Regions from separate parts of the Homo sapiens genome. Here all the other regions are reported to be linked to region 2. The links are microRNA targets in miRTarBase. Many come from high-throughput screens and were not tested one by one. Region 2 holds a microRNA gene; each other region holds the end of a gene's coding sequence.
Evidence for each region. The annotated mature microRNA hsa-miR-124-3p reads UAAGGCACGCGGUGAAUGCCAA and lies in region 2 at 4,189-4,210, shown strand. An mRNA with a match to its seed (bases 2 to 7 or 8) in the 3' UTR can be bound and repressed. Matches are read on the target gene's strand: a 7mer-m8 pairs with bases 2 to 8, a 7mer-A1 pairs with bases 2 to 7 and ends in A, and an 8mer does both.

Region 1 (7,116 bases), not on the chromosome of region 2:
AGCACACACTTGGCCCACCCTGCCCTGGGGATTCCAGCCCAGCGCTTTTTGCAAGAAGAATCAGGCATGGGATTCCATGGAAAACTGCTTTTGGAAGCCGAGCTTGAAGTAGGGGAGTAGTGCTGTGTGAGTGCTTGCAAGTCGGGGTAGGGCGCACCTCTCATCTACCACCTACTTCCTGGTTGACTTGGGCAAGTTATTCGACCCCGAGCAGCCGTTCTGTGGGCTCTTCCCAGGCTGATGAAGATGCTCCAGAGAGCTATACCCACTGTGAGACTTGGGCTGAGCACTACGTGGGCTGGGGTGGAGCAGGAGTTTGTCCTCATCCAGATGGGCTGTTGAGAGATGGCAGGAGTGGCCCTCAGGGGCTCCACAGGACCTGAACTCCAACAACCAGCTTCTTGCCCTGTTCTAGCAAAAGCGCAAAGGCGTTGAAGGGCTCATCGACATCGAGAACCCCAACCGGGTGGCACAGACAACCAAAAAGGTCACACAACTGGATCTGGACGGGCCAAAGGAGCTTTCGAGGAGAGAACGGTAACATCACTGGCTGGGCCTTGTGTCACGGGGAATACAGGCCAGCAGTTGGCCTGTGGGATGCTAAGGTCCCCAGCTGGCTGGGAGCTGTGGCTGTTTATTTCTGTCTCATTCCCCAATGGCCCTCCAGTAGCCTTTAAAAAGCCACACAGAATTTGTTTTCACCAATTGATACATGATATCAGGGGAAATAGGACAACAGGCTCAGACCTGAGCATAACACTTGAGGTAATGGTGCAGGATACAGAGGGTTGCCCTCCATTCCCCTCTTCCAGAGCACCACACCCTGGGGAGACTTCCCTTACCCCACTGATCTGACCATTCCTGACCTGCATCCATCTGTAATGTCGTGGCCATGGGGACTGGAAGGGGGCTGCGAGCCTGTGCCGGCCAGAAGGCAGTCCAGCCCAGCGCAGCTCAGCCAGCTGTCCCAGGCCTCTGCAAGTCCTGTGTGAAAATGAAGCTGTAAATATCTTCCTCAAGAGTCGTATGAGGATCAAGATCATGTACTGAAGTGCCTGGCACAGGATCAGTCCTTGACTGGTGCCCTGACTTTTGGCAGCCACCAGGTGACCTCAAGGGCCTTACAAGAGGTTGAAGCCTGCTAGTTTCTCTCCTGACTGGGAATTTAGGATAATGGCTGAGGGGTGTGTCTGTGAAAGCCTCGTGGGGAAGGCCATGAGCTTGGGTGTGATTGCAGCTGCTAAGGACCCTTCTGTCCCCCTTCAGTAGCTTCCTCTTGGCATTGACTTCAAAAACCCAGCAACCTGGGTGTTCTGCCACTGTGGTATTCTGCCATTGGCAGCTGTGCAGCCTTCGATAAGGCTGTGCCTTTCTGGGCATCAGTGTCCTCTCCAGTAAAAGGGATCCTGTTGCTCCCTCCTTCTGTCCTTTGGGGTTGCAGAGACACCCTGCCTGGCATTTTGCTTTCACTGAAGGGCCCTGCAGAGTCTTTGGGCTGCCTTAGTCATCATTCCTGAGGCTCAGCTTAGAGGCTTCTGAGTGTGGCACATCCCTCCTGAGCTAGGATCTGCGGTTCGCCAGGTATTATCTCCTCAGCTCTGTAGTGAGGCATCTGCTCTTCCCACTCGGGAGTCCCTCTCCCTCCCCTCTAGCTAGCTCCCATGCCTGGTTTCTCATTACTCCCCAGTTCTGTGTACCTTGAAGGCCTCTGGGAGGCCGAGTCTCTCTCCCAGCCTCCTGCCAGGCAGGGCCCTCCCCTCCTCCAGCACTTGGCTCTTCCAGGAACCCAGTGCAAATAGGCCCTCCGATCTCATCCTGAAGGGCATCCACTCCAGTTCAGAATCTCAAGCTTGGGAAGATCCTCAAAAGGAAGCTAATGACCCTCACCACTGACTCTACTTAGGGGGTTCATTCCTGACACTTTGTCCCATGGGAGCCCAGCAATTATTCCCATCTCCCTACTGATGGGGGCTGTCCCCTTGGGGGGCAGCACCGTGCACATCTGAGCTGCTCTAAGAATGGGCCATGTGGTGTTGACCTGAGACTGGGTGTGTCTGTTTCCCACTGTGGTCCTCATCCTATGCCCTGTGGCTGCTTCCTCCACTTCTTCATTCCTTTTTTTGTTTGTATTTTTTAGAGATAGGATTTCACTCTGTCACCCAGGCTGGAGTGCAGTGGTGCAATTGTAGCTCACTGCAGCCTTGAACTTCTGGGCTCAAGCAATCCGCCTGCCTCAGCCTCCCATGTAGCTGGGAGCCATGCTGCCTTAGCCATGTGTGCCACCACACCTGGCTAATTTTTAAATTTTCTATTTTGTACAGAGTCTTGCTATATTGCCCAGGCAGGTCTCAAACTTACAGCCTCAAGTGATCCTCTTGTCTTGGCCTCCCAGAGTGCTGGGATTACAGGCCTGAGCCACCATGCCCAGCCCTTCCTTCCTTGTAGGATGTGGTCCCCACTGCTTTCATCCTCCTGGTCATCTTCTCTGGAACACTCTTGGCCTGGTCCCCCTTCTCTCCATGGCCGCCAGAGCCTGATCATGAAGCCCTCAGGCATCTTCCCCTCCCTGCTGTAGCTGGACATTGTCCCCTTTCCCTCTGAGGCTTTCTGGACATCGCAGATGTTTTCTCCCTGGGCCTCTCCCTCCTGCTCACTTGCTTGGTGAACGTCCACCAAGCAGGGGGTTCATGGAGGCAGGGACTCACAGCCAGGGCACCCCTTCCACCTCGGCCCTAGGCCGAATCCTTGGCCTTTATTCTGACTCCCGTCCAGTTTGGCAAACAGTGGTAGGAAAGATGTCCCCATGACACCATTTTATCCACACAGAGAAGAGATTGAGAAGCAGAAGGCAAAAGAGCGTTACATGAAAATGCACTTGGCCGGGAAGACAGAGCAAGCCAAGGCTGACCTGGCCCGGCTGGCCATCATCCGGAAACAGCGGGAGGAGGCTGCCCGGAAGAAGGAAGAGGAAAGGAAAGGTAAGGGCTGGGCTGCGCACGCAGGGACAGGCCCCAACTCTGGTCCTGGGCCAGCCACAAAGCACTGAACTCGTGTCCCTGTCCGCGAGGTGACAATGAGGTGAGGAGTGACTGCTGCCTAGGAGGTCGTTCAGGAGAGGGCCACCCTCCCTGTGCCTGCCACTCCCTCGGGGACCAGGAGGGTCCAGCGACATCATGGGGTCGGATGTAGGTTGAAGTCTCAGCAGAGCACCGTCCACAGTAGGTGGACAGTCACTCCTGCTCCCAACAGCGGGAGGTCACAGGAAACCATGCCCCTAGTACAGACCTTGCCTGAGGCTCACAGGTCCCACTAAGGTCTCTGGTGCCTTGGGAACCCAGGAGAGATGCCTGAGGTCACCGCTGTCCATCTGCAGGGCTTGGGAGGGTGAGCTGGATACACAGCAGTGCAGACTGGCTTGACATCCAGCCCAGGCATCCCTTTTCCTGTGCTCTCCCCTCCAGGCAGGCCAGAGATGGTGGAGGTTCCTCTAGGCCAGAGTGGCTATGGGAGTTGGTCCAGTTTATAGGAGCATTCAACTTGCAACATTCCATCTCCCGGGGGTCTGTGAGAGCCCCTACATGTCCATCTGTCCTGCCTCCTCACCAGACCATGAGGAAGCAGGCCTGGAAAGGGGAAACCAATTGCTCAGGGACATTGTCACCCGCACCAGAAATCCAGTGATCCCAACTTCCCATTCAACCCTGCTTCACAAACCCCAAGCAGGAAAGGACTTCACATGTAACTGTTGGAATGTTTAAATTTTAGACTTCAGAACCCGTGGAGGGAGGTTAGAATTACAGGGTTCTGCTGGGAGGTGGGGTGAGAAGTTTCCGTTTGCCCACAAGAGTGTGTGTTGGTGGGGCTTTGTGGAAGGAACAGCTTTCTATAAGGTGGTCTGGCCACTGAAGCGTGTCGGGAATGTCGGGGGGCCCGGGGTTACAGCTGCAGCAGAAATCCTCTCCCACGCCTCGGCTCTTCTCTGTTGCACAGAATGTTTTCTGCAGCCTTTCAGACCTAAAGTTCTAGGGTTCTGGCACGTGTGTTGGGAGGGGGTGGGGGGTTGCTTTGTTTTAACCCCTGCCCTTCTCCCACCCCTCAGCAAAAGACGATGCCACATTGTCAGGAAAACGAATGCAGTCACTCTCCCTGAATAAGTAACTGCGACCCGTGGGAGGAGATGCCGGGGACCTGGGCCGCGCTGCCAGGACCTCTGCTGTGTCTCGCCCACCCTGTGCCCTGGCGCCGCTGCAACAGCCCCTCATGGCCAGGAGCCCCCCATGGCCTGGGGCCTCCTCTTCATCTTGGCACAGAAATTGTTTGGGGGATGGGGGGGGGGACTGGGGGAGGGGTAGCTGCTATCTTTGAGACAGAAAGATGCAGGACAGCATTTCATATGTAACCATTTGAATGTTTTTGCTGTTTTTAGAATTCAGAGCCCTTGCTGGGGGGTGCCTGGGAGATGGGGTAAGAAGAGCTTTCATTTGTCTGGTAGATAGATAGCATGTAAGGGGGTGGTTGTCCCAGGAGGCAGCTGCTGACAGGTTTGCTACACACAGCCCCGGACTGTGTTGCCTGGGTGCTCATTCAGAGAGGGGCTATCATCTGGGAGCCTGTGCCCCTGGGTCCTCGAGGGTCATGGCTTGTCCCTGGTCAGTCCTGTCTGACTGACCTCAGGGCCTCACCTCTCTGCCCTTCCCTGCCCGGTTCCTACTCACCTGGCTAGGGCCAGTGCCCATTTTCAGCCCTACCCATTGATCATTTCAAGAAACCTCTGTTTACTGTGTGGCACCCAGGCAAAACATGCTCCACAAATTCAACTTGTATATTTGGCAGATTAAACTTGACATTATCGTAATCTTTGTTTTGGCAATCCATCCTTTGGCTTCCGTGCTCGAGCCGTTTTTACCCAGCTGGGTACGGTGCCACGTTCAGGCACGTGCACCCGGCAAGGTTCAGGGCACATACCTACCTGGGGCATGACATCTGTCAGGTGGCACCGAGCAGGATGCGGGGATGGACCCTAGATACCACAGCCTGCCCCCTCCCCTCCTTTAGCCAAGTCAGGATCTTAGGCCTCAGCAGGCAGGGACCCTTCCAGGCCACAGTAGGCTGAAGCAGCACCAGGATCCTGGCCTGGCCTGGCCTGTAGGTGTCCCCTGGTGGTTATAATTCTGTAACTCTAGGGGAGAAGGGGAATAGCACTAGCATTGGATGTCGCCAAGGCCCACATTTTCCTGAGAGAAGCCACAAAAGATGTGCAAATGCCCTTCAGCACAGGACCTGGTGACATGACATAAACTCCAAGACAGAACCTCAGTTTACAGCACACGAAAAAAATATCTTGCCAACATTGTAATGACAAAATAAATTCCCGTGAAGTTCCACAACCAGGCCGGGCATGGTGGCTCATGCCTGTAATCCCAGCACTTTGGGAGGTGAGGTGGGTGGATCATCTGAGGTCAGGAGTTCAAGACCAGCCTGGCCAACATGGAGAAACTCCGTCTCTACTAAAAATACAAAAATTAACCAGGCTTGGTGGTGTATGCCTGTAATCCCAGCTACTTGGGAGGCTGAGGCAGGAGAATCGCTTGATCCCAGGAAGGCAGAGGTGGCAGTGAGCTGAGAACGCACAACTGCACTCCAGCCTGGGTGACGAGCAAAACTCCATCTCAAAACAAAAGTTCCACAACCAGCCTGGAGTGTGTAGCCCCTTTGTCCAGGAATTTGACTAGTCAATCAGTGACACCTGGTACTGGCAGTTTTGGGAGTGGCAGCCCAGGATGGACAGCAGTGGGGAGGGAACCATTTGGCATAAGGCCGTTGGGCTTCAGGATCAATTTTGTTGGCAAGCAGTAAAAATAAGCTATCTACCTATGGCCGTGCAAACACCAATCTCTCCCTGGAGTCCCAGCTACTTGGGAGGCTGAGGCAGAAGGATTGCTCCCACGAGTTCTAGTGCAGCCTGGAAAACTTAGCAAGACCCCAAGGAAATAACAAAAAACCTCTCCTTCCACATAGGCAAGCATGTCCATAATTACTTTTTTTTTTTTTTTTTTTTTTACACAGTTGCATTTTATTACCTCCACATTTTGAAGCAGTTCATGACCAGCATAGTGCTTTGGGGGCATTTTTTTTTTTTTTCAATAAATGAAAGCATTTAAGAAAAAGGCACGTATTCCTTGAATAGGTAAGAAAAGCTCCCCATCTGTCCCCTCCCTTTTTGAGGGAGCAGCCCCTATGGGAACTCGTATTGGTACCCCAGAAACATTCAGCAAAGCAACCATTAGCCTCCCTGACCCCTCTCCCCGCTTCCCCAGCAGCTAGGATGAAGGCAACATATTCCTCACAGGTCATTTGATCTTGAGGTCCTTCAAGGCTGACTCCAAGCTCTGCAGGGAGGCAGAACGGACAGGCTGGTTCTCAGCTGTCCTGCAGGCACCCCACTCCCAGGGACCTGATCACCCATCTCAGCCCCAGCACAGCAGAGGGCAGAGAACCTGCAGTTTTGGAGTCTGTCAGCTGGGTTGGAATCCCGGCCCTGAAGACGGGTGCCCCAGTGAGCACCAAGGCCCAGATGTCAAGGGGCCGCCCCCACCCCTCATCCCCATGCAGTGCCATCTCTGCAGGAGTGAAGGATGGGGGTCATCTCCAGGGAGTGGGGATGGGGGGAAAGGGTTGACCTGGGAGGCATGGCGGGAAGCCAGGAGGGGCAAGCCTCACCTTCACATCCCAGATACTCATGCCGCCATCCATGCCAGTGGTGCAGAACTGCGAGCACTTGGCCTTGCCGCCGCTGAGCACCGAGATCTGGCTGCAAAGAGGAAGAGGAGCTTATGAATTCAACCTGTGCTGGCGCTGGGCTCAGGCCCACCCTGTCCACCAGGCGCTCCCAGACTTCTTGGGGAGCGGGCTTTAGTGAGAAGTACCGAGGGGGTGTAGTGGGCTTAGAAGTCAGTTCTGCCTTGGGGACAGTGGCATGCGAGGTGCAGGCAAATGGGACAGGACACTCAAGTCCTGGGAGGCAGGAAAGACACGTGTGTCTGCGGAGTGTACACAGTGCCAGCAGTGCAGCTGGACAGGACAAAAAAGGAGATGGGGGTGGGGGCAGCCAGGGAC
Region 2 (7,116 bases):
GCAGTGTCCCTGGAGCTCCTGGGGGTGGAAGAGGGCCCCTGCTAGGTGGGATGGGCCTTCGGGGGCCCCTGCTCCTCATGGCACCAAGCATCTGCCCACCTCTGGAGGTTAAGCCTGGCGTGGGAGGAATGGGAGGCCCCCTTACCCACAGGGGAGATGTTTGGGGTCACAGTCACAGATGCTGGGTGGGAGGGGGACCCAGGCCTTGCTGCAGAGCCAGACAGAAGTCTCCGCCATCCCTGGGTGAGGCACTGGGTGGGGGCCTCTGAGCTCCTTTGACCACCCCAGCTGGAACTGGGAAGCTGTGGGCCACTGGGAGGCAAGGGTCCCCACCCCCTCTGCCACCCACATCTGTACTGTGGGCACCTCCATCTGGCCTTCCACATCCTCCCCACCTCCGCATGCTGCAGGGGCTGGGTGGGGGGTGGTCTGCAGCAGACTCCAAAGGAGGCGAGGGTCAAGGGTCAAGAGGTGGTGAGCCAGCTGTTCCCAGATGTGGGCCGCGGCCTTTCCTCTTTCTGGAGGAATGACAGGCCTCCCGCAGAGGAGGAGCGGGTGGTGACGAGGGAGAAGGAGCGGAAAGGGAGGGGTTCTCCACGGGTTCTGTTGATTTGTTTAATCCCACGCTATTCGGAGGCTTTCACGGATGGCGGACAAGAGGGAGGGGGAGGGGGTGGGGGTCTCGGCCCGTGTTTCCTCCCCTCCTCCCGCTCCCGCCCCCGCCGGAGCCACCTGACCCGTAGCGAAGTTGCCGGCCCCGCTGCGCGCCGGCCTTTGTGCGCACCGAGGCGGCCGCCGGGAACCGGGAGCCCGAGCTGGCCCGGCAGCGCCGCCGCCCCCACCTTCGCGCCCCTTTTCACTCCCCCACTGTCCCCGGAGCTGGCAAATAAACAAATCCACAAACAAATTATCCGTGTGCTCCGGAGAGGCGGCGGCGTGGGCGGCGGCGGAGAGAAGGCGCCGGGCAAGGCGAGACTAGGCCCCCGCGGAGCGGGGGAAGCACAGACCCCAGCCCGGGCCCGGCAGCAGTAAGTTGACTTTTATGAAACCTACGAAGCTCGCGGGGCCACCGAAAAGGTCCCCACCGGAGCGGACTCTGCGGGGCGGGCGGGGCAGAGGCTGCAGGCGGGCTCCCCTTCCCGCGCGGCTCCTACCGGCCGGCTCCGCCCCCAAGCCCTGGACGGCCCTTCCCCCAGCCCGCCTGGCTGGGGGCCGCTGCACACCGGGGGTGGAAGTGGGGAGCCGGGGACCCCGATCGCTACTCAGGACTCCAAGAGGGGCCGGGTTCTTCTAGGGATGTACAAAAATCTAGGGTGACCCAAGGGAAGGGGGCGACCCCCAGCCTTCCACCTTACCCACCCCGGCCTGCCAGAGAGCCCTCCGCCAAAGGTAAAGTGGGAAGGACGAAGGTGCTCCGCCAGGTGAGGGAACAGGTCTGCCAGGGGCGGCGATCCACCCTGCCCCAGGTGGAGCCGGTCCTGTACGGAAAAGAGACCCAAAGAAAGATTTGGGGTCCCCGAAGCCAAGGTACCGATGGGGGGTGCTAAGGAGTCTTTCCCCTTAGAATGGGAACAAGCTCCAAGGAGCTGGAATCCCGAGGCGTCCTGGACCCGTCCAGGAAGCTAAGGGTGGGGGACGGGAGGGGAGGGGGCCGGGAGCCGGCCTCCCTGGCCCCAACCCTTGGTGAGAAGAGGGCTGGGGGTATAAAGTCCGAAAGTGAGGCGGAGGTTTCAGGGTTCCGTTTCAACACCATGGACAGCGGATGCCTCAGACTGGGAGCCTAGGACCGCCCTGGGGACTGCCCCCGTTTCATTAGGGTGAGGGTCCGATTCCGACCACTGGAGGCCAAGGGCAACTGTCTCCAATGAAGCGGGGCTGCTGCAGCCTGGCCTCCCCAGCCCTCCAGCCCCTCCAGCGTCCGGCTTGCACCTGCTGAGGCTGCCGGCACCCGCAGGCTTGGGGCAGCTTCCAGAGCTTTGCGCTTGGAACAGAAGGTTCCCCTTGGGCTGTGGAGGAGTAGAGGGCTTGTGCGTGACCTGTGAGAAAGAAAGATTGTCCCTGACACTTGCGAAGGGCGAGGAATTGCGGCTGGGAAGGGTCAGGTTGAAGCCGCACCAAAGGGGGAGGGGCGTCCTGATGGTTGAGGACCGGCGGAGTCGGTGCGGGCAGAACCAACCCGAGTTCCTGCCGCCCTTCCTAACCGGCTGTCCATGGGCTGGGCAGTGCTGGAGAGGGTGGAAAAGGAAGGAAGCAGGACCTGCTCCCAGGGAGGCCCAGGCTCTGCTCCGAGGGCAGATGGCGCAGGGGCTGGGTTGGCCCTAGGAGGAAGGAGATGGGGACAGAGGCCTGCCGGCCGCGCCGGCCTGCGCTCCTTGCAGTCTAAACAAAGGCCAGCGGGGGAGGCTCCGGACGGTGAGGCTTGGGGAAGCCACTGATCCCTGGCCCTAGAGGGCCAGATCGGGGGCGCCCCAAGGACCCTATCGAGCTGGCAGTGACTGCAGTCGGGCCGTGGAGTGTCGCCTGTGATTCCGTGGTCCCTACGGGCAAGAGCTCCCATCCCGGTCTGAAACTGTGAGAACCGCAAGCTCCGATGGGGGCGGGGAAGGACGACCTTTAATTCCCACCCCACTGTACGGAGCCCAGCAGGGCCATCCGCAGGAGGCCGGCGGGACCCTTGCCTTTCTCAGGACTGAGAGGCTTGGAGGACCGCGGTGTGAGCTGCGCGGCAGAGTGCGTTCTGCAGGCGCCAGACAGGAGACGCGAACCCGCGGTCAGGGCCCGAGTGCGGGTGCGTGTCTGCGGGTGCCGCTGGGCTGCGTGCCGGCGAGGCGTGCGCGTGGCGAGGCGTGCGCGTGGCGGGGTGTGGCTAGAGGTGTCAATGTGCAGCTGGAGGGGCTGCGCGCGTGGGTGCAGGAGGGCCATGTGAGGGGCTGGAGTGTGTGGGAGACAGGCGTTTCCTTGGGTCTCCGTGTGGCCGCCGGGCGCAGGGCACGGTCGAGGGCGCTCGATGGCTGAGTCCGCGTGAGCCGAGGAGCGCGCGGGGCGGGACGCGGTGCGAATGCGCGGGAGGCACGAGGCGCGCAGTGCGTGTGTGCGCGTGTGCGCGGCGCGCGTGCCCCGCAGTTCTCAAGGACACCTCGGGGAGGCAGCGGCGGGGCCGGTGTCCGGGTGACGTCACCGCGCGCCCCAGTGATAATCGGCCGGTGCCGGAGCGGAGCGCGGATACGCGCGGAGGCAACGGCGACGGCGGCGGCGGCGGCGGGCGCGGGGACAGTTGCATCGGGGCCGGGCCGGGCTAGCAGGAGCTGGGCGCCTGCAGCGTGGACCCCGTGGACACTCGGCTCGCAGCCGGCCTGCGGCGCTCGGGGACTTGCCTGGCTCCCTTCTCGGGGTTCCCGCGCCCTTCTCCGCCCAGGGCAGCAGCGCGCGGGGCCCCCGGGAGCCGAAGAGCAGGCGGGAACTGGCGGCGGCGCGGGAGGCGCAGGGAGCGGAGGCGGCAGCAGCGGCTCCCGCCGGGACTGGTAATTACGCTCGGGGCCGGGCCGGGGCGAGCCGGGCAAGCGGCCTCTCTGGGTCTCCCCGTCTTTCTCTCCACGAACAGCTCGAGCGCCTTCTCGCGGGCCCGCTGCGCGCGGAGAGGACGAGCTCGCTGGGTTGTAAAAAGAGACGAGTTTTCATCTTTGAGCATCGAGATTCGTTCTTTTAACCGCATTCGGTGCGCGCTCCTGGGTCGGCACGGGCAGGGCGACGGCAGGGGAAGGCAGCTGCGGAGGAGCTCGCGCCGCCCAGTCGGAGCGGTTCTGCGCCCCTCGGAGCCCCGCGGGAGGCGGCCGGGTGCGCACGCGCTCACCACCCCCACCCCCGGAATCCGTCTTCGCGATTCCCGGGCGCCCCAGCTCCAGGAACGCCCGGAGGGACGCACTTGGGGGCCCACTCTCTGCCGCGGAAAGGGGAGAAGTGTGGGCTCCTCCGAGTCGGGGGCGGACTGGGACAGCACAGTCGGCTGAGCGCAGCGCCCCCGCCCTGCCCGCCACGCGGCGAAGACGCCTGAGCGTTCGCGCCCCTCGGGCGAGGACCCCACGCAAGCCCGAGCCGGTCCCGACCCTGGCCCCGACGCTCGCCGCCCGCCCCAGCCCTGAGGGCCCCTCTGCGTGTTCACAGCGGACCTTGATTTAATGTCTATACAATTAAGGCACGCGGTGAATGCCAAGAGAGGCGCCTCCGCCGCTCCTTTCTCATGGAAATGGCCCGCGAGCCCGTCCGGCCCAGCGCCCCTCCCGCGGGAGGAAGGCGAGCCCGGCCCCCGGCGGCCATTCGCGCCGCGGACAAATCCGGCGAACAATGCGCCCGCCCAGAGTGCGGCCCAGCTGCCGGGCCGGGGATCTGGCCGCGGGACACAAAGGGGCCCGCACGCCTCTGGCGTCGCGGGGCGGGTGGGGGCGGCCGAGGGCGGCCGAGGGGGGAGCCTGCGGCCGGGGCCAGGCTGCGGCCAGCCGGCCCCCGGCCACGTGTGTCCGCAGCGCGGAGCGCCCAGGCGCCCGCAGAGGGCGGCGGGGCCCGGGAGACAAAGGGAGGGTCCACGGGGAGCGGCGGGCGGGTGCGTGGGGCGGCGGGCTAGGGTGCGGCGCTGTCCGCGGTGCTGGCGGCGGGGCGGCCCCCGCGGGACGGGAGGGCGGCCAAGTGCGGCCCTCGCCCCCACAGCGGGCGCCCTGGACAGTTGCCACGGCAACGTGGGAGGAGGTGGGGCAGGGTCTGAGGTCACCGCTAAGTCTGCCCTTCCTCGGGCCGCTGCGCCGCGGGGCGGGGCGGAGGCGGCGCTCGCTGTGGCCCCAGAGCAGCCCCCGCAGCCCAGGACCAGGCTTGCATGGGGACGGGGGTCTGCGTCCGCGTCCAGGGTCCAAACGAGGGCGGTGGACACGCCGGACCGCATCCCGCCCCCAAAGCCGGCTCTGGGCTGTGCAGGACCAGGCACGTGAGACTCCGCAGCCCAGGGAGAAAATGACAAATCCCTCCCCCGCCGCCATCTGCAGCCGCAGTGACACCCACTCGGGTTTGCTGCAGGGGTTTTTTTTCTGTCCCCGGAAGCCAGCGCCACCTGCTGACGCCCGGCACCGCCTCTGCGCCGCCTCCCCCGCGCCCATCCCAGGCCCCGGCTGGGCTGTGATGCCCCGGTAACAGTCAGAGGACGACCCCCTCCCCAAAAGCCCCCTTCCCCTGGGGCGAGTGCCAGACCTGGCTTTGCAGCTTTGCCTCTTTCCTCTTAACCAGGTAGAGGCTGAGCCTCTCCTCCCCGGCTTCAATCCGAGGCAGGAGTCTGAGTCACCTGAAGTTCTCCCAGCTCCAGGCCCAAGGCAGGGAGCAGAAGATCAGGATAAAAGGAACCATTTGAGTTTCAGGCAGTGGCATCTCCACCCCCACCACCGCCGCTGCAGGGCCACAAAGGGAACCTGCCTCTGCGGCTGTCCTCAGCACAGACCTCCAGCCCCTCCACCCAAGTCGCCTGCTGCAGACACAAGCAGGAGCCACTGGTGCCTCCATCTTCCCACCCCCACCCCAGTCAGCCAGGCAGAGTCAGAACACGGTCCACCAGTCTCCTCAGGGGCAGGTTCCCCCTGGAGGGCACAGAAGTGGCATAGGCAGCCCCAGCAAGCCCCGGCCTGACCACAACACTGACCCCGGGGCTTGGCGTCCCCTTCTTCCTTCCTCCCGCTGTGAGGGGACAGGCAGCATCCCCCAGGGGCACTTCTGGTCCTAGAGAAGGGGAAGGGGCCCCAGGATCGTTCCAGGACAACACCAAAGGGACTGGTGGGAGTGGGGTGTTCCTTCGGGGTACAAGATGTGGCCCTAGCCTAGCTGGAGCTTCCTCTTGGAGCTCTGACCTCCAGCCTGGCCCTTCCCTCGGAGGGAAGGTGGCCCCTGGCTGCTCCCTCCTCTGGGGCCAGAGATGGGGGCTGGGGCTTTGTTCTTGTACCACTTTCCTTCCTGGGGAGGGGACTTGGCTCCTAGCCAGAATGGACCTTCCATGTCAGTAGCCTGGGGAGGGGGACACTTGAGAGCTGGTGGGAGCGCATGGGCAAACTGCCCTTGGCACTGTCCCTAGACAGTCAGTCTCTGTGGGGTCTCCTAGGAAGAGCTTCCTGGACTCTGTCACGGTCAGGGAGCTACCTCTCCTGATGCCTGCCCCCAGTGGTGCACCTGGGCCCCAGCCCCCAGGGCAGACTTGTGGCTTCTGGGCTGGAGCTCAGGGGGTCACAGGAAGGTGGGCAGCCCAGTAGGTATGGGGCACACGGGGGGAAGCTCACTGCGAAGGAGCTGCAGAGCTGAGTGCGCACCTTCTTGGGCCAGGCCTTACCATAGCTGTAGCACCGTCTGCCGCAGTGCGGGGAGGGCCCCATGTGCCACAGGGTCCACTCGGACCTGCAGCAGCTGAGCTGCTGGCCTCAGTGAGAGGCCCTTGGGGCAGGGGCCACCATCACCATGCTTTGCAGCCAACATGGACTGCCCTGCATGTCCAGCTCAGCCTCTCCTCCTCCTGCTCACACCCGCAGCCACAGTCACAGACATGCTCACACAGTCTCACCTCCCACGCACACACAGACACTGCCCGCCTCCACTCAGGAAGAGCTGGGCACATACCCCCAACTGAATCCTCAGCACCCAGCCTGCATTGGGTCGGCTGCCAGGCAGTGGTCCTGGTGGACAGCAAACTTGAGCCAAGGGCTTGGGACACCCTCTGACCAGACCATGACACCCAGCAAGGCCAGCTCAGGGCTATCCAGCAGGGCCCTCCCCAGTGTGGGACCAGAGGAAGACATCCCTTCCCTGACCCAAAGATTTTTATTCTGAATAAAACCTAATAAAGCTGCTGAGGCTGAAGCCACAGGCCCCACAGTCCCCTCTGAAATTCCTCCAAATCCCCCGGTCCACGAGCAGCAGAGGTGGGAGGAGCTGCAGGGGCCAGGCCACAATCAGCAGGGGCCAGGGCAGCCAGTCCCTCTATTCTGCAGCCCCTGGTCTCCACCTTGATCTCACCTCCAGGTAGGGCTCCCTGTGTGGCCATTGGCCAGGAGCCCCCACCCTCCTTCCCCTCAAGTCCAAGCCCCCTGGCAGGTCTCT
Region 3 (7,116 bases), not on the chromosome of region 2:
CCTGAATGACAGTTAAGTTGAAGCCATGAGGGTTAATCTGATCTCAGACTCCTCAAATCTTATTTCTTTCTGATTGGGATTTAAAGAGATTTTGCCAAATTCCTCTCCCAAAGGGTTGTAGCACATTACACCCTAATAAGGTATAAAACTGCCCAGTCTCCTTTATCCTTACCAGCAATGGTACACAGCACAGTGGTTTAGGGTGTGGGCTCTAGAGCTAGACTGCTCGACATTGGATACTAGTTCTATCATCTATTAACTGTTGGCTTACGGACGATGTTCAACTCACCTGCGCCTCACTTTCCACATTTGTGCAAAGGAGATAAAGCAGATATTCTTATCCAAATTTAAAAAATAATTATGGGTGATGAAACTGAGACCCAGAGAATTTGATTTGTTCAAGGTCACACCAATAAGGAGTAAATGACCTAATACACATAAATACTCAGAACATGGCATGTAAGTTCTTAATGAATATGCACTTTTATTTTTTGTTTTCTAATTTGAGGGATTGAAAAATGATACCTCATTATCACCGTCTTTACATTTCCCTTGCTTACTAGTGGAGTTATGTGCTCTTTTGTTTGGATTTTCTCCTCTGTGAATTGCTTCTTCACACCGTTTACTCATTTTTTTCTCATCATGCAATCAGAATATTCTGTATATTAGGGATATTAGCCCATTATCTCTCCTATACATGGCAGGTGTTTTCTCTGTAGTGCAGTTGTGCGATCTTGGCTCACTGCAACCTCTGCCTCCCAGGTTCAAACGATTCTCCTGTCTCAGCCTCCCGAGTAGCTGGGATTACAAGTGCACAACACCATGCCTGGCTCTGCTTTTTTTTTTTTTTTTCTCTGTAATGATTTTTACAAGAGGTTTTTTTTTTTTTTTTTAATTAAAAAAAAATAGAGACATGGTCTCACTATGTTGCCTAGGCTGGGATTATAGGCATGAACCACCATGCCCACCCCCTCCTCATGTTTTACACACACACACACACACACACACACACACACACACACACACACGATTAATGATTAATTAAGCAGAAATTTTATTTAGTAAGATCGACATTTTAATGAAATTGTCTTTTTTTGTTGGGGTTTTTTTGAGACAGATTCTCACTTTGCTGCCCAGGCTGGAGTGCAGTTGCGTGAATACAGCTCACTGCAGCCTCAACCTCCTGGGCTCATGCGATTTTCCTGTCTCAGTCCCCCAAGTAGCTGGGACTACAGGTGCATACCACCACATCCAGCTAATTTTTGCATCTTTTGTTGAGATGGGGTTTCACCATCTTGCCCAGGCTGGTCTCGAACTCCTGATCTCAAGCAATTCACCCACCTCGGCCCCACAAAGTGCTAGGATTACAGGTGTGAGCACAGCACCTGGCCAAAATTGTCTTAATATCCTAGAATTGCCATGTCCCTCCATTTATTTACACTCCGTTTTATAACATCAATAAAATCTTTTTTAGGGACCTTGCACTTTTGTTAAGTTTATTCCCAAGTATTTTTATAGTTGTATCATTAAAGTAGAAAGGGAATATAACTTCCATTTCCATTTTAAACTAGCTATTGTCAGTATAGAAAATGTTATTTTTCTGTCTTTTTTATCCAGCTAGCTTCCCAAATTCTATTATAAATTCAAGTATTTCTTGTACGAGAATCTCACGAGTTTTCAAGGTGTACAATTATATAACCCATAAATACAGATAATTCTTCTAAAATGTTTACATCATTTCATTTTTTCAGCTTACTGCATTAGCTAAGACTTCCAAAGCAATGCTGAATAATAGTGGTGATAAAAGGTATTCTTGTGTTGTTCCTGATAATCTGAATGTGTCAGCCTTTCACCATGTAGTATGATATTGGCTGTTGGCTTTGAAAAATTGTCTTTATCATCATAGTAATTTCTTTCTACTCTCATTTCACTAATCCACTTAGTTTTTATTCAGAACAGCTTTTTTTTTTTTTTTTGAGACAGGGTCTCTCCCTCTGTTGCCAGGCTGAAGTGCAGTGGTGTGATCTCGGCTCACTGCAACCTCCGCCTCCCAGGTTCAAGCGATTCTCCTGCCCCAGATTCCCGAGTAGCTGGGACTATAGGGGCGTGCCACCATGCCCAGGTGATTTTTGAATTTTAATAGAAACGGGGTTTCACCATGTTGGCCAGGATGGTCTTAATCTCTTGACCTCATGATCTGCCTGCCTTGGCCTCCCAAAGTGCTGGGATTACAGGCGTGAGCCACTGTACCTAGCCCAGAACAGCTATTGAATTTTATCAGATGACTTTTTGGCATAGGTTCCCTTCTTTAAGTGATTCAAGTAATGAATTACATTGATAGATTTAGTTATGTTAAAGTAGTTTTATCCGGCTGTACTTTCTCTAACTACTGAATTTTATCTGTTTATATCTAGGACATTTGCATCTATATTCATCTATAAGTGAGATGCTTATAGTTTCATTGTGCTATCTTACCAAATGTTTGCTGAAAGGGGAAAGTGGAATCAAAAAAGAATTTTGTTTTTCAATGAGGATTTTAAAAAATGCTGTTGTTGTTAAGACAGAATGGAACATGCTAAATTGTGATAGAAAGGGTCCACTGGAGGCCAGACACAGTGGCTCACGCCTATAATCCCAGAACTTTGGGAGGCTGAGGTGGGTGGATGGCTTGAGCTCAGGAGTTCAAGACCAGCCTGGCGACATGGCGAAATCCCATCTCTACAAAAAATACAAAAATTAGTCGGGTGTGATGGTTCACGCCTGTAGTCCCAGCTACTTGGGGGCCAGAGGTGGGAAGAACACTTGAACCTAGGAGATTGAGGCTGCAGTGAGCCGAGATAGCGCCACTGCACTCCAGCCTGGGTGACAAAGTGAGACCCTGTCTCAAAAAAGAAAAGAGAAGAGAAGAAAAGAGAAAATAAAGCATCCAGCAGAGAACTTGAAGATGAAGGAGAAAGGATCACTGGTAGTGTGCAATTTCAGAGAAGGTGAAACAGATCCAGAGAACAAATAGGTTATAAAAGGGATGCCTGAATTATGACTGAATGGAAGGGATTCCAATCACTAGATCTAGAAGTTTAGTAGCTAAAAGTTAAGGGAGTTCCCATCTAATAACTTCTATTTTCTCTATTGTAACACTACTTACACTCACAGATATTTTTGTTTATTTATGAGTTTATATATAGCTATTTCAGAGAACAAATGTTGCCATTAATAGAGATATTTTCTTCATGTTATACAGTTATCTATTTTTCAGGACATTTGCAAAATTCTACAAAGACTTAAAAACAACAATTTCACTCTCTCATTCCAGCACTCAATCTCACAGGCAAACAGAAATCCTTGAGTCCTTAATACAAAATCAGACACAAAATATTGCTGTCATAGAAAAATGATTAATTAAGCAGAAATTTTATTTCCAAGCTCTTCAAAGACCGTTGCAAACACGAATAATGTATCCTTCTAAAAAAGTGTCCCAAATTAAATCAAAGGCACATCGTCGAAGTAAAACACTTGTGAAGTTAAGAATTCTTTTAGGTTGTAATATTTTCATGTTAGTTTTTAATCATTTACAATGTTCTGTGGGTCACATTTTAAACATTTTTAAATATATGAAATTCTGTATTTCTTTAAGTACAGCCACAACTACAAAGCAGAGAAACGTAAGAATACAAAAATCAAATCTGCTTCATTTATATACACGATGGGGCAGCCTAATGCACATCATAACATTAACTTTTCCAAAGAAGTTTGCTAAGAATCTGCTCCCATAATTAGTGTTAAAAATAAAGCAATCTTCCCATTTAGAAAAATCAAGACATCAGTTGATTAATAAAGCCTATTCTTCCTCCCAGCAATTTGTACTTTCTGGTCTTCATTTAGGAATTATAAATTCATGACAAAAGAACAAATTTTTTATGGAATAAATAACTTCCAGGAACAACAGTTTATAAGTATTCAGTTGTTTAAATAAACAAAACTATTTTCCTTCCTAAAATGTAAACATCCAGTAAATGAAACATACATGATATTCCAGGTATAGAAATCTTAGTAACTCACTTATGAAAGAGGTGCATTTTGGTATGTTTGGTGGTAAGGTTTTTGTTTATCTTATGTATAAAAGTACTTGCACAAAAAAAACAAGCAGTTATTACTATTTAAAATTCTATTCCTTCACCCAGTTTTCTCACTCAAGTAGAAACTCATGAATATCTGTGATTTTGGCTATAGGACCAGGCCACAGGAAAGGGCTGAAATATCTCTAAAAGTTAGGGAAAAGTGTTTTCTTGAGACTTGAAGGCAGTCATTCATCACTTTGTGCTTGAAGGCATTCCTCAGCAAACTTCTCTCCTACTGGAAAAAGAGTTTGTTTGGTTTTCACTTTAGTAAGATTTCTTTATAAAATTAACTAGTCATCATTTAATAGGGTACTTTAGTATTCACGAAATAGAAAGCAACAGGTGAGCTAGGCGCGGTGGCTCACGCCTGTAATCCCAACACTTTGGGAGGCCGAGGTGGGTGGATCACCTGATATTGGGAGTTCAAGACCAGCCTGACCAACATGGAGAAACCCTGCCTCTACTAAAAATACAAAAAAATTAGCCGGGCATGGTGGCGGGCACCTGTAATCCCAGCTACTAGTGAGGCTGAGGCAGGAGAATCGCTTGAACCCGGGAGGCAGAGGTTGTGGTGAGCTGAGATCGCACCATTGCACTGCAGCCTGGAAACAAGAGCAAAACTCCGTCTCAAACAAAAAAAAAATGAAAGTAACAGGTGAATACAAAAGACATCTAAACCACACCACTGAATGAGCAGCACCCATGAAAGTGCTTTGTAAGGCCGGGCGCAGTGGCTCACGACTGTAATCCCAGCACTTCGGGAGGCCGAGGCAGGCAGGTCACCTCAGGTCAGGAGTTTGAGAACAGCCTGAGCAATACGGTGAAACCTCATCTCTCCTAAACATACAAAAATTAGCCAGGCATGGTGCTGCACACCTGCAGTCCCACCTACTCGGGAGACTGAGGCAGGAGAATTACTTGAACCTGGGAGGTGGAGGTTGCAGTGAGCCAAGATTGTGCCACTGCACTCCAGCATGGGTGACAGAGTGAGACTCCATCTCAATTTAATAAAGAGAAGGAAGGAAAGAAGGAGGGAAGGGAAGGGAAGAAGAGGGGAGGGGAGGGGAGGGGAGGGAAGAAGGAAGCTTTGTAAAAAGAAAAATGCTATGCCAACATAAGACTATTATCTTAACACCATAAATATGAACATTTTCCATTAAAAAGTACAATAAGATTTGATAGATTGCTTCCTTCTTTTAAATGTGAACAATTTCCTTTTGCTACTTGTGAAGAAGGACCTAAGATAATTACTCACTGTATAAACACCCCTTAGAACACATCATTTGAAATATGTTGGTCCCAAAAGACTCTAATAATTCATGCCCTTGTCCTCTTAAAAAAACATTGTGTCACGCCTGTAATCCCAGCACTTTGGGAGGCCAAGGCAGGCAGATCATGAGGTCAGGAGTTTGAGACCAGCCAATTCAAGACCAGCCTAGCCAACATGGTGAAACCCCATTTCTACTAAAATACAAAAAAATTAGGTGGGCATGGTGGCATGCGCCTGTAATCCCAGCTACTCGGGTGGCTGAGGCAGGAGAATTGCTTGAACCCAGGAGACAGAGGATGCAGTGAGCCAAGATCGCGCCACCGCACTCCAGCCTGGGTGACAGAGCAAGATGTCTCGGCGATGAGGGGGGAAACACATTGTGAAAATGACCCCAATACAAAGCATTCGAACCCAAGAAGTTTCTAATATGCCACCAGAGAGGTGTTTTCATTTATCAATTTTTAAAGCTCTTTTAACCCCACTCACACTTTTTCCCAATAGCTATATTTCTTCCTCCATTAAAACAGAGATATATTCTGAAAACCATTGGGAAAGAAATCACAGCGGGTGGTAGGCACACATCTCCCACTCTGGGGAGTCCTTATTCCCAAGAGTAGCAAGTCAGTTGATAGCACTAAGTAGCAAATCCCAACCCTTGGATGCTATAAGGACAGAGAGGGTGGGCTTAAGGTCAAGAAATTACTGGCCAGGTGTGGTGGCTCACACCTGTAATCCCAGCACTTTAGGAGGCCGAGGCGGGTGGATCACCTGAGGTCAGGAGTTCGAGACCAGCCTGACCAATATGGTGAAACCCCATCTCTATTAAAAATACAAACATTAGCCGGGCGTGGTGGCAGGCACCTGTAGTCCCAGCTACTCGGGAGGCTGAGACAAGAGAATTGCTTGAACCTGGGAGATGGAGGTTGCAGTGAGCCAAGATCATGCCACTGTACTCCAGCCTGGGTGACAGAGCGAGACTGTCTCAAAAAAAAGAAAGAAAGAAAGGAAGAAATTACTACCAGCCAACTCAAAGAGCTCAAGTACAGAAGGATGTTGGCATCTCATGACTTAGTGCCAGAGAGACTTCAGACTGTCCTGATTAGATGTATTCTACAGGCAAGGTAAATATACACTAGAATCACACTTCAGGGAAAGTTGTGCATTTTGCTGGCTCTTGTTTTAATTTCCCCAAGAATAGGAGACATTCAAAACTCAGTTGCTCAAGTCCTTTGGGAAGCCCTGTGATAATGCTATGGGCCCAAGACATCATGGTGTATCATTACTCACGAGTCTTCAGAGTAAAGCACAGGATCTAGGCTCCCGGAAGGGGTTACTTCCAGCTGGAACACCCACCAGCAGGGCATCCTTGCAGGCATTCTGCATACAGTACTGTTGAAGCTCTGCAGCTGCCTGAGAGACCTGAAACAAAGGGACAGCAACATGGCACCCTGCTCACAGCCAAGCCACCCGGCAGTCAAGGATATTCTGAAAACGATCATCCAACTTGGTAAATATCAACTTTTTGTGACCTCCAAAAGTCTCTTTCTGCTGAAAGTTCTAATACTTGAACTACAAAGAGAAAAGGTTACAATTTCCATGAACGTCAATTTAGATATTTTTTGGTTTAGTTGCTTATTCAACGAAGACAAGAAAAAGCTGTATCTTTGATCCATTTAGAAATCTAGTTTTGAGACTGAACGGGTAAAGAAATAGCTCATTCTAGCATTC
Region 4 (7,116 bases), not on the chromosome of region 2:
AGGGACCTGGTAGAGCCCGATGGCCAGCTGATCCTTGATGATTCCCTCATCTATGACAATGAAGGAGACCAAGTCAAGAATGGCACCAATATGAAGTCCCTGAATCTGGAGATGCAAGAGTTGGCGGTAGCTGCGTCCCTGTCACAGACTGGGGCGTCCATTGGCAGTGCCCTGGCTGCAATCATGCTTCTACTTCTGGTGTTTTTGGTGGCTTGTTTTATCAACAGGAAATGCCAGAAACAGAGGAAGAAGAAGCCCGCAGAGGACATTTTGGAAGAATATCCTCTGAATACCAAGGTAGAAGTGCCCAAGAGGCACCCGGACCGGGTGGAGAAGAACGTGAATAGACACTACTGCACTGTGCGGAACGTCAACATCCTGAGTGAGCCTGAGGCGGCTTACACGTTCAAAGGTGCTAAAGTCAAAAGACTGAATCTAGAAGTCAGAGTTCACAACAATTTACAAGATGGAACAGAAGTTTAATGGAGGAGACCTATGTGTATTTTTTTCTAAAATCATTTTTATAAAATGGGGGGAAATACTGGTATTTTTATAATCTCGCAGATAAAAAAGGGAAAACTATAGCTTTGAGTGGCAGACAGCACACATCACATGCATCAACTCACAACTGAGCTACCTCATTCAGCAAAGAACCACTGAGAACCCCAGAGTATTACAGTTATTTCCGTAGATCCCTTTAATAGTGTCAACAACTGTACACAGCTCCTTCTGTAAGGCTGGTCTTAGAAAACAAGTACTTTAGTATCAGGACAGGAGTTGAACAATTAGGTTAGCAGATGGAGATGAGAGGACTGGGTAGAGTACCATGGCAGATCTCAGAGAGAAGAAGTAGGTACGGGCCTTTGGTTCCCTCCCCCAGCCCCAGCTTTCTCCTACAGGGCTTTTCCTGAGTCCCCAGACAGCAGAGTATGAACTGCTGACACCCAGATTCCATTAAAAATTCTGCTAATCGACACAACACATATATTTGCTCATGATTTCACTTGACAGCGTATGCTCCTTGGCCTCTAATTGTACTTTGCTTTTCCAGAGCCCTTTTTACCTGGGGATTTCAGTGTGCTTAAGTAAAATCCTCTGAAAACCACGGGAGCCTCTGCCTCCTCAGCCACAGAGAACTCCCTCCTACAAAGGGGGAGACTGAAACCCGAGTTAAGGAGGGGCCTGGCAGGCGTATCAGAGCACATTAGTGATGCCCTTCACCCCAGGGAGGTGTCTGTTCCCAACTAGTTTATGTGGCACTGAGACATCCATCCCTGACCAAGGATGCTGCGAAACAGGATCAATGTACTACGGCCTTTTAATTCAACATTGCCATAAATGCTTTAAAGAAAACCCACCACACTTTCCTCCTACTCCGGTCTTTGCCCGTTCCTGTAACAGACAATCCCATGTCCTAGGTATGGTTTTTTATTCTGTTAGTGCTTCGGGAAAGTAAGTGATTCATTTGAATAAGGCAAATTAGGAGAAAGCCCAGGTTGGGGTGAAATCAGACTTAACAGATACATGCTGGTTCTCCTTGCTGTGTGTGACACAGCAGACAGAGGCACTATTCCTGGTGCAGTATTTCAGGGATTTCTCTTTGAGGGGTTCTTTTCTGGTAGCTCAGGCAATTATTTTTACCATATCAGCACATGACAAGGCCATGAACACATGGCTCTAAAATAATTTAGTGTTCAAGTATCAGCTTAACTATTTTGTGTAGGCTACACACAGCTTGCTTTTGTTTCTCTTCTGTTTCTGCCTTATTGGCGGAAACATAAGCGTGCATGCCATGTTGTTTTGAATTGGAGGCACAATTTCATTATTCGAGAGTAAAAGACATGTCCTCTTCTGATGCATGGCACACCATAGTCACCAAGCAAATAACAGAGCCTTCACATTGTGTAATATTTGTATGAGAATGACTCAAGCTCTTTGAGAACATTCCAAACTAGTAACATTTCGCTACTAAAAGCTAGAAAGGATGAACTGTGAAAGGTTCTAGGCAGCTCTGTGAGACTCCAAGCTCCTTGAAAGTAGGACCTTTGTGAGCCACGCCTTTCATTCTTCAACAGTGCCTTGCATGTAACAAGCACTCCAGAAATGTTTGTTGAATGAATGAATGGTGTCATGGGTGAATGATGGGGAGTAAATTTAGGAAGGGGAAGTGAGAGAGTATGGTGGCAATATCACAAGGGAGGAGAGAGGAAAACAATTATCTTCTCTACTTGGATTATGAGATAACCTTTTCTTGGAGGAAAGAAACACCGCTTTACAAAGGCATGACTCTGGCGGTGGTCCTAAGGAAGCATGAGCAGAAAATTCATAAAAATGTATCATCAGCAGGAGATGAGACTATGAATTGGCATCCAGAACAGGAGATTTAGAGCAAAATCTAATTTAGCATTCTGAGATGAGTGTCAGGTTTTCAGGAGAGAATGAGTTGGGGTGAGCCCAGAGTCTGAAACTCCTGACTGGTCAGGTGCTACTTAAGACCAGCTTGGGCAATTCAGGGCAGAACTCCTGTATCAGCCTCATGGACACCCAGAATTGGTATCTCATGGCTGGAGAGCTGATCAGCCAGGCACAGAATCTCCAGAACAACCTAGAGAGTGAATGCTAATTTGTAGAGCGAACTTCCATTTGGCCCATTATTTGTAACTGTGTAACTGCTCCAAGTGCCAGAATGCTTACACGTTAAAGCAGCACCTTTCCATTTGCCCACATATTCTTCTTGCACACCCCTTCCATTACTGCTGAATAGGACATTGCATGGGAAGAGTACAGAGGTGGCAGAATGAAGCTAGAGTGGGAAGGACTAAAGACTGAGCCCCAGAGTGCTCCCAGCAACCGCCACGTACAAGGTCTGAAATGACAAGGGCAAGAGTGAGATAGGAAACTGTGTGTGAAAGGAAAGCCCTTGCAGTATTTCTGCCTCCCTTTCTTTCTGCCTTTCACCCCACTAAATGTATGTTATTGAATGCCAGTACTTCTCTAGTGGATGCACACTTGTTAAATAGTGTTAAGAGATGTGGAGATGAGATATACCCCTTTGATGTAGAATTATTCATTTGGTTTGTTTCATACTTCATTATAGGAATCAAGTAATTTGATGACTAATGTGGATTATATTTCAGTCAAAGCTCTGCTTTCAATTTCTCTGATTTGCTCACTAATGCCTTGTGTGTGTTTTACTAACCTTTTATATCTTGCCTTCAAGTGAGAAGGAACAAACAACTCTCAGTGGTTACTACTTGCTTTTATATGCTGGCTGTGAAGGTTAAAAGAAAGAATGGTCTGTACCATTCTGCTTTGCTGCCCTTTTATTGTACCCCAGGCCTCCTAGAGGACTCCTGCAGATTCTATTGTTGGGTGGGAAATAGTGTTGGAATGTGTTTGCACAGTCTTATGATATTCAGTCTCAGTCTGCTATAGGTATTTGTTATTCTTGGATACTACACACCTGCTCAGACTGAGTAAACATTTGTGGTGCTGTCAACCTGATTTCTTGACTCTCAAATGATTTTTGTATTTCCAATATGAATTTGTGTGTTATGAATTTCTGATTTCTCCAATAGTATATGCCACTATATAAATTTGTATTAATAAATGACAGTCTTGTTGGTTTTTTGTTTGTTTTCCTATGTTCTTTTTAGATTATATCTCTTATGAATATAGACATTGCCATTAAGATGCCAAAATTCATTCTAAATTTGAAGCGGTCTTCTGGAGAAAACCCTTCTAATGAGGGTGAATCTGAGACGCTCATTAACTGTGTTCAGAGTAAGATGCTGAATAAATTATATGTTTCCAGATTATCATAGGTCTTTGGCAATCAGTTGAAATTCTGAGACAAAGAGGAATAATTAAAATTTCCATGTGCCATATAATAAGATGATTTTTGTATTTATTATCAAAACTTCTAAAGAGACATGATATAGTATGAGGGTGGCTTATGTCCTTCTGTGCACATGCAAATATTTGAGCATCCATCACTGACCCTGGAAAAGACCAAAGCTCCAAACAAGAGTTTATAGGCTCATGGAAGGAAAAATCAGAGTCAAAATGGAGCTGTACCCAGCTGGTCTTTGCATTCTGCAAGCCTGTGCATTTGTGTGCCTTTCCCTTCTGATAAAACAAATAACTGCCAATAACAGTGACCAGCAGGGCTCTGTTGGCACGTTTGCAAACTCAGCAAGACTTGAGAAAGCATGTTTATAGAAAATCTGGGGAAGGGATGCCACAACCAATCCTGGAAGTTGCTGAGATGCTGCCAGGAGCTTAATGTAAACTTCCAATCCTCACAATTTCCTGTGATTATCCGTTGCCTTAGAGCAGACTCTCTGCCCTGGAGTTCACTTCTCTAGAGTGCAGAGAAGCTGTACCAGGAATTAATCTAAGAATTGTTAGGATTGTCTATAAAAATGCTTCTGAGACTGGAAATGTCATGGCCATAAAATTTAGGGATCTTGAGGAATAGTGGCAGAAAATGAGTTCCCATTTAGAATTTAAAATGCCTCATAGACTGCTTTTGAAGAAATGCACTGGGAGTGGTGGAAGGAGACTATATTTGGAATATGTTATTACATTCAACTACATGAAATTGATTTGATAGGTTAAAAATAGTCCAATATCAATAGTTTTGTATGTCTCAACCTAATATTATGATACCACAATATGTAATAGAGATTCTGTCCCCAAATGAGCCACAGAGAACTCTTAACTAGAACCCTGTGTGCTGAGAGTAGCTAATGCCCCAGGACTGTTACAGGGACTATATCAAATGATATATTGGGCATATCTGGCAATGCTCCGATCAAGAACAATGACTCACTTATATTCTGTACCTCATTCAGTCTTCATAACAACCCCGTGAGACATAGTTGTCCTGGATAAGTTCCTTTGAAAGTTTCATATGAATTTCAGAATTTCAAATCTTTGAAGGCCTTCACAAGCACAACTTGATGTTGCTTTAAAATGGTCCCAACTCCTATCACCTAAATTTAATGCTTGTCATGAAAAATTACATCACTTGATTAATACAACAAAATAGACCTATGCTGCAACCCTCTCTAAAAAAGCTAGCAGAATTTTATCCCTAGGCTCATTTTGGTTTAAGGCCAAGTTCCAAGATTACTCAGCAAGTTATAAAAGTTATTAGAATTTCGGTCTATGGGATAATTTTCATAAATTGTGAAAAACTAGTATCAAGATATCTCAGTTCCAAGACTACTCAGCAAGTTATAGAAGTTATTAGAATTTCAGTCTCTGGAATAATTTTAATAAATTGTTAAAAACTAGTATCAAGATATCTCCCTTAAACATCCCACTAAGGAATGCTTTAAAAATGAACCAGTGCTGGATACTAGCAACTCCCAAGAGTCCCTCTGCGGCTGATTCTGTTGCTGCACACTGAATCTGCCCTGCCCTGTGCTCTGGGAAACCGACTTTTCATCAACTGCTTCTTCAAGGCTCCCTTGCCTCTTGCTTCTGGTTGAGGTTGGCCAAGTGGAACCACTGATGAGAGAGAAGATGATGTGTGTTTAGCCTCCTCCCTGCTTCCTTCTGCCTTGTGATTCTGGGGTGGCTGCATCCCTCCCTGGCCACAGGTGTCACGGGTTCTGATGAAACCCCTTCCCTCCCTTGCCCACGCAAGGCTAGTCATGATTTCATCCTGTCCCTAGTCCTTGGAGACTATATCATCCCTGTGGATACCTAACCGAACTCTGCCCATGCGTTTGTAAATAGCTCCTTTATTTGACTCTTTATTCAGACCCTTTAAGTACTCTGTCTTTCTGTCCAAACTCTTACACAGTCCTTAAATTCAGTGCCATTTGGTTCCACTTCTCTAATGTAAATCAAAATTAAATACTTGAACTCAAATCTTGTCTCAATTTTAAATTTGCTTGTTATTATAAAGAGTGATGTGCTGATAAATGCTTCACAACTGACCTTTCGGGTAAAGGGAAGCTCCATTTACAGTATTTCCTAGTTTTTGTGTTGTATATACTCCCATTATGGCTGAATACAACCCATTAGCATAATTTCACTGAATGTGGAGTTGGGAAGAGATGCACAGTAGTACCACTTTATGCACTATTTTTCTTTTCTTTTTTTTGAGTCGGAGTTTCGCTCTTGTTGCCCGGGCTGGAGTACAATGGCACCATCTGGGCACACTGCAACCTCCGCCTCCCAGGTTCAGGCGATTCTCCTGCCTCAGCCTTCCCGAGTAGCTGGGATTACAGACATGTGCCACCATGCCCGGCTAAATTATTATTATTATTTTTTCTTTCTGTTTTTCTTGGTTTTTTTTTTTTTTTTAAGATGGAGTCTCGCTCTGTCGCCCAGGCTGGAGTGCAGTGGCGCAATTTCGGCTCACTGCAAGCTCCGCCTCCCGGGTTCATGCCATTCTCCTGCCTCAGCCTCCTGAGTAGCTGGGACTACAGGCGCCCGCCACCACATCCAGCTAATTTTTCGTATTTTTAGTGGAAACAGGGTTTCACCGTATTAGCCAGGATGTCTTGATCTCCTGACCTCGTGATCTGCCCACCTCGGCCTCCCAAAGTGCTGGGATTACAGGCGTGAGCCACTGCGCCCGGCTTATGCCCTATTTTCACCACATGGATGCAATAAACACAACCTGGAAAGCATCACTAATAATAAAATGTCCTCTCCCCCTCCCCCTCCCCCTCCCTCTCCCCACGGTCTCCCTCTCCCTCTCTTTCCACGGTCTCCCTCTGATGCCGAGCCGAAGCTGGACTGTACTGCTACCATCTCGGCTCACTGCAACCTCCCTGCCTGATTCTCCTGCCTCAGCCTGCCGAGTGCCTGCGATTGCAGGCGCGCGCCACCACGCCTGACTAGTTTTCGTATTTTTTTGGTGGAGACGGGGTTTCGCTGTGTTGGCCGGGCTAGTCTCCAGCTCCTAACCGCAAGTGATCCGCCAGCCTCGGCCTCCCGAGGTGCGGGGATTGCAGACGGTGTCTGGTTCACTCAGTGCTCAATGGTGCCCAGGCTGGAGTGCAGTGGCGTGATCTCGGCTCGCTACAACCTCCACCTCCCAGCCGCCTGCCTTGGCCTCCCAAAGTGCCGAGATTACAGCCTCTGCCCGGCCGC

Region 1: miRTarBase lists ARPC1B as a target of hsa-miR-124-3p. Seed matches in the 3' UTR shown: 7mer-m8 at 6,166-6,172.
Region 3: miRTarBase lists GNG10 as a target of hsa-miR-124-3p. Seed matches in the 3' UTR shown: 7mer-m8 at 3,489-3,495.
Region 4: miRTarBase lists FRAS1 as a target of hsa-miR-124-3p. Seed matches in the 3' UTR shown: 7mer-A1 at 1,760-1,766 and 7mer-m8 at 2,075-2,081.

What each region holds. Positions count from the first base shown.
Region 1 is chr7:99,393,724-99,400,839 of GRCh38, reverse strand. ARPC1B (actin related protein 2/3 complex subunit 1B) reads right to left here. Exons shown (of 10, transcript NM_005720.4): 9 at 6,721-6,811; 10 at 6,024-6,389. The coding sequence ends at 6,351. PDAP1 (PDGFA associated protein 1) reads left to right here. Exons shown (of 6, transcript NM_014891.7): 4 at 416-537; 5 at 2,827-2,978; 6 at 4,100-6,167. The coding sequence ends at 4,158. Among named protein-coding and RNA genes, the nearest start is that of PDAP1, 11 kb to the left of the region's middle. RefSeq lists an enhancer at 6,333-7,004.
Region 2 is chr20:63,174,364-63,181,479 of GRCh38, forward strand. It overlaps MIR124-3 (microRNA 124-3), which reads left to right and starts at 4,137; the gene lies at 4,137-4,223. RefSeq lists enhancers at 1-483, 3,384-4,344 and a silencer at 4,632-4,921.
Region 3 is chr9:111,666,506-111,673,621 of GRCh38, reverse strand. GNG10 (G protein subunit gamma 10) reads right to left here. Exons shown (of 3, transcript NM_001017998.4): 2 at 6,676-6,807; 3 at 3,396-4,353. The coding sequence ends at 6,682. It overlaps DNAJC25-GNG10 (DNAJC25-GNG10 readthrough), which reads right to left. Exons shown (of 3, transcript NM_004125.4): 2 at 6,676-6,807; 3 at 3,396-4,350. The coding sequence ends at 6,682. Among named protein-coding and RNA genes, the nearest start is that of GNG10, 8.5 kb to the right of the region's middle.
Region 4 is chr4:78,540,642-78,547,757 of GRCh38, forward strand. FRAS1 (Fraser extracellular matrix complex subunit 1) reads left to right here. Exons shown (of 74, transcript NM_025074.7): 74 at 1-3,628. The coding sequence ends at 483. Among named protein-coding and RNA genes, the nearest start is that of ANXA3, 7.6 kb to the right of the region's middle.